Regions from separate parts of the Homo sapiens genome. Here region 1 is linked to region 2. The links come from fine-mapping of genetic effects on gene expression. Tissue or cell type: monocytes after R848. Region 2 holds a variant in brackets; the other region holds the start of a gene. All regions are shown on one strand. Distances are from middle to middle.

What was found.
Region 1: DNAH17 starts here. The variant in region 2 is fine-mapped to the expression of DNAH17 in monocytes after R848 (Quach 2016, PIP 0.95).

Annotation. Positions count from the first base shown.
Region 1 is chr17:78,575,968-78,578,991 of GRCh38, forward strand. DNAH17 (dynein axonemal heavy chain 17) reads right to left here and starts at 1,429. Exons shown (of 81, transcript NM_173628.4): 1 at 1,328-1,429.
Region 2 is chr17:78,535,375-78,537,874 of GRCh38, forward strand. DNAH17 (dynein axonemal heavy chain 17) reads right to left here. Exons shown (of 81, transcript NM_173628.4): 19 at 1,925-2,107. Among named protein-coding and RNA genes, the nearest start is that of DNAH17, 41 kb to the right of the region's middle. The variant T/C (reference allele first, on the strand shown) is at 1,109.

The DNA of each region.
Region 1 (3,024 bases), 41 kb after region 2:
GGGTTGAATGCAAAGGGTCGCCTGATGCTGTGTTTTCATCACAATCTGGGAGGTATGCAGCTCCTGAATTTCAAGGGGAACCCTGGGGTATTCAGCTGCTCTGGGGGTCCGTGGGCTGGGGCTGGCCTGCTCCAGACCTGGCAGCTGCTGAAAAGCATCAGGGTGGACAGATGACGTTGGAAGCACTCACAAATTCTGCCTTTTGGTTTGACCCAAGCTATTGCTTTTAAGTTTGTAACAGCCTACAGTTCCCCAAAAGACACGTAATACCACGGAACAGGTTTATTTCACCCTGGCCACTATATATCGGCAAAACAACTATATGATGGGAAGCAGTAGTGGATAGCATTTGGATGCTATTCAAATGGTCTGAGATTTATTCAAGGCTCCAAACATCTCTGAGAGAGGACTTGGGGAATATTTGGCCAGCAAATGGCAGAAACATGGCGGTCCACGAGCAAAGCCACCCGATTCAGGCACATCTGTGAAAGAAAAAGGGGACACCACCAGGCAAGTAGGAGGAGCACCGCGTGGCATTTATGGAGATGACTCGTTCACCAGGTTCCCACAGGGCTTTCAGCATGCTGCTGAATTAATCTCCACCCAGGATCTCCGAGACCCGGGGACGCGTCACGTCGTCATTTCCTAGGGGGATCAGGAACTCAGGGGAGCCCGAGTCCTGGAAGGTTCCTGATTGGAAGTCTCGCCAAGCTGGTCAGGCGACTGGACTGGAGGGAAACATCCTCTGGTTTACTGATTTTGTGGATTTGGGCTTTCACAAAGTCATCTTTTCTTCCAAGAACGGCATGGGGTGGGCTGCCTCCCAAGCCATAACATGTGTGGGCTGAGGGGCCCCTACACCCCGCAAGTTTCTTGCACGATCGGGAGGTCTCATCTCAGGCTCCCACCCAGCCGTTTCCTGGGCTGAAGGCCAGGAGGTCCCAGTTAACAATAGGGTTGTCCCAGGCCATGCTTCCGGAGGGGCAGAGACGGCTTCTCTGGGAGGTGGCCCATGCCCCAGGCCTTCAGGACTCCACAGGAGGAAGCTGGGGCTAGGGGCTTCCAGGAGAAGCCAGGGGGCTGAGGCAAGGCCTTCCCAGGAGCAGGGAAGAGTCTGGAGCCCTGGAAGGGGTCAGGCTGGTACGTGGCAGCCAGCCTCGGGGTCCCAGAGCCATGAACAGCTCCCGGTGGCGAGCAGAGCCACTTCTGGGGTAAGTGGAGGGTCTGCTGTCTGCCAGGGCCTAGGTCCCACCTCCATCCTCTGAAGGCCTCCCTGCTCCCTCCACCTTGGCCTCCGACTCCCCCAGCATGGTTGAAGGCCGCTCACCAGCTGAAGGCAAACAGCTTCTCCCGCAAACTGATGAGCAACTCTTTCCCAAACCAGGAAAGAAAATGGCTCCCTTCCCTCGAGGGGCTCCAACTGCCACATAACTTCTGGGAGTCTCCTCACGGTACCTGGGGCTTCTAGAACCTTCCCCTTGGGACCCAAGTAACCAATGATAGCGCAGCAAATGAGGAACCAACCGTCACCCCACAGTGGAAAGGCTCTTAGATGATCATTTTGAGGGGAGGTTGGAGGGGGGACAGGGTCGCGCTCTGTTACCCAGGCTGGAGTGCAGTGGTACAATCATAACTCACTGCAGCCTCAAACTCCTGGGCTTACGTGATCCCCCCCCCTCAGCCTCCTGAGAAGTTAGGACAACAGACGCACATCACCACACCTGGCTAATTTTTGTACTTTTTGTAGAGATGAGGTCTCACTCTGTTGCCCAGGCTGGTCTCAAACTCCTGGCCTCAAGCAATCCTCCCAAAGTGGAAAGGAAGACATTATCTCTGTTTACAATAAGGTGATCTTGTATGTAGAAAATCCCAAGAAATCCATAAAATTGTAGAGCTAATAGAGGAATTCAGCAAGTTTGCAGTATACAAGATATTTGAAAATTAATTATATTTCTCTGTAATTATATTATGAACAATCTGATGATGAAATTTAGAAAACAATTGTCCCCATAATGAACAATCTGATCATGAAATTTAGAAAACAACTCCCATTTACAACAGCATCAAAATAATTTCGTTTACAATAGCGTCAAAAACAACAAAATACTTAGGAATAAACTTTAAAAAGAAGTGTTAAGACTTGTACACTGAAAACTGCAAAACATCATGGAAATAAAGACAACCTAAATCAATGGAAGGACATGCTGTGTTCATGGGTTAGAAGATTGTTAAGACGGGCCAGGCGTGATGGCTCACGCCTGTAATCCCAGCACTTTGGGAGGCCAAGGCGGGTGGATCACGAGGTCAGGAGATCGAGACCATCCTGGCTAACACGGTGAAACCCCATCTCTACTAAAAATACAAAAAAATTAGCCGGGCGTGGTGGTGGGTGCCTGTAGTTCCAGCTACTCAGGAGGCTGAGGCAGGAGAATGGCATGTACCTGGGAGGCGGAGCTTGCAGTGAGCCGAGATCCCGCCATTGCCCTCCAGCCTGGGAGACAGAGTGAGACTCCGTCTCAAAAAAAAAAAAAAAAGAAGATTGTTAAGATGACGACAGTTCTCCTCAAGTTGATCTGCAGATTCAACACAATCCTTATCAAACTCTCAGCTGCCTTTTTTGTAGAAATGACCCTAGATTTTATAGGGAAGTATGAGGGAACAAAAACCATCCAAACAACTTTGAAAAAGAACAAAGTCTGAAGACACACACTTCCTGATTTCAAAACTCACTACAAAGCTACAGTTATCAAGACAGTGCTACCAGCATAACAATAGACAGAGATCACTAGAATAGAATTGAGGTTCCAGAAATAAATGCATCCATTTATGGACGATTGAGTTAGCAAAGGTGCCAAGACAACTCAATGGGAAAAGAATCACCTTTTCAACAAATGGTATTGGAATAACTGAATACCCACATGCGGAAAAACGAAGCTGGGCCCTTACCTCACGCCATCTACACGAATTAACTCAGCATAGATTAACAGAATGCAAGAGCCAAATGTAAGAGCTAAAACTATAAAA
Region 2 (2,500 bases):
CAGAATCCGCTCACACGCCCACTCCTCTCAGGAGCTGTCCTTGACCTTCTCAGGTCATTAGCTGTTCCCTCGTGTCCTCATGTCACCTCTGTACAAGCATGCCTCCCCACCACACATGCAAATACGCACACGGGCACATATGCATCCAAGCACACGCGTACACACACGAGCACACGCACATCCCTCCCTCCTGGACAGGACAGCTCATCTCGCTGTAAATATATGTTATGACAAATCATACGTGTCCATTATTTTACAATTCAAACAACGCAGAAATGCATGAGAGGAAACGCCTGCAGCCACATCCCTCTCCCCTCCCCTCCTTCCTCCCTTCCTGGTAAGCACTCACCCAGATTTTTGCTTGTTTAAGCAAATGAAACCATATTCTAAACATTGTTCTGTAACTTGATAAATGTCTAATAACCTGTCACAACACCTTTCCATCCTTGGCTCATTGTGACAATTCACAGAATCTGGGTTTGGGCCAGAATTGGTCAAGCCACTCCCCTCTTCCACAAACATTTAGGTCACTTAAGTCTTTTCAGATTTTTTTTTATTGCTATACAAATAGGTGCTTTGACAAACACACCACCTCAAACCTCCCTTAAGCGGGGAGCTGAATTTCCCATGACTTTTGTTGTCCTTCCTACCCCAGAGCCTGGCCAGGCTCTCCGTGTGTCTTGTTTGATGCGTTTAGACGAGATGATTTCAGAAGGCAGTGGGAGGCACATTTGTCAAATTGCCTGAGTACTGGGAGAATCAGTGTTTACATTACAGGACTGAGGCCGGGCACGGTGGCTCACACCTGTAATCCCAGCACTTTGGGAGGCCAAGGCGGGTGGATCACAAGGTCGGGAGATTGAGACCATCCTGGCCAACATGGTGAAACCCCGTCTCTACTAAAAATATATAAAAAAAAAGAAAAATTAGCCAGGCATGGTGGCATGCACCTGTAGTCCCAGCTACTCAGGAGGCTGAGGCAGGAGAATCGCTTGAACCCAGGAGGCGGAGGTTGCAGTCAGCTGAGATTATGCTACTGCACTCCAGCCTGGGCAACAGAGCAAGACTCTGTCTCAAAAAATAAAAAAATTAAGAAGTTTAAGACCAC[T/C]CTGGGCAACAACATGGCAAAACCCCATCTCTACAAAAAAATACATCACCAAGCTGGGCTTGGTGATGCATGCTCGTAATCCCAGCTACTTGGGAGACTGAGGCGGGAGGATCAATTGGGCCCGGGAGGCAGAGGCTGCAGTCAGCCGAGATTGAACCACTGCACTCCAGCCTGGGTGACAGAGTGAGACCTTGTCTCAAAAAAATTACAGGACTGAGTGAACAGTCAGGAAGTTGGGAAAGGTTACCCTCTTGGCATCGTGTCGGGGGGTTGGAAGGATGATGAGGGAATGAAACCCAGGCAGGTTGACTGAGAAGAAGCTGCTTTGGGAAGGACGACAGATGTGGGAGTGGGGAGAGAAGTGGCCATGTCATCCTAGAGGTCACACGATGTCATTTAAAAGGTAAGCAGGGCCGGGCGCGGTGGCTCACGCCTATAATCCCAGCACTTTGGGAGGCCGAGGCGGGTGGATCATGAGTTCAGGAGATCCAGACCATCCTGGCTAACACGGTTAAACCCAGTCTCTACTAAAAAAAAATAAAAAAATTAGCCGGGTGTGGTGGCGGGTGCCTGTAATCCCAGCTACTCGGGACGCTGAGGCAGGAGAATGGCTTGAACCCAGGAGGCGGAGGTTGCAGTGAGCCAAGATCGCGCCACTGCACTCCAGCCTGGGCGACAGAGTGAGATTCCGTCTCAAAAAAAAAAAAAGAAAAAAAGAAAAGGTAAACGGCGAAGCCTTGCCGAGTTAGGGCGGCAACACCAAATGGGGAAAGCAATGGATGACCCTGTGTACGGCCAGAAGAGGCCAGGACTGACCTTGTAGTTCATCCTGTCCTTGGCCAGCCGAGGGATGAGCCTGGCTACGTTGTAGATGTCGTTGACCAGGCCCTCGATCAGTGCCAGGAAGCCGCGATCTGAGCCCACCTCCAGGGTCGGGTTGAAGGTCAGCCCATCCTCGTCCAGCTCCATGCGGATCTCAAACAGGGGAGCGATACTCTCCTGAAAGAGGGGTGGGGTTGGCAGTGGTCAACACCTCTGTCCTCCATCGGATGATTCTCAGTGCCCTGATCATCCACTCCGTACCATCAATGTGTCACTGCCTTCCACTTATCTGGGAAGCTTCTGAGAGCTCGTGTCTCAGCGCACCCCGCTCCTTGAGCAATCGCTACAGAGCCAAATGTACAGCCACAAGGCCAAAAGCAGGCAGGGGCAGGTTGGGGCAAGGGGAGGGGCAGGATCAGGTAGAACTCAGACCTCGGTTCAAAGCCCACACCTGCTACTTGCCAGCTCTGAGGCCTTGGGGAGTCACTTAACTCCCAGTTTCCCCAAATATATAAAATGAGGCTAAATATTTTATAGAATGGAGACATTGTTGGCTAGGCGCAGTGGCTC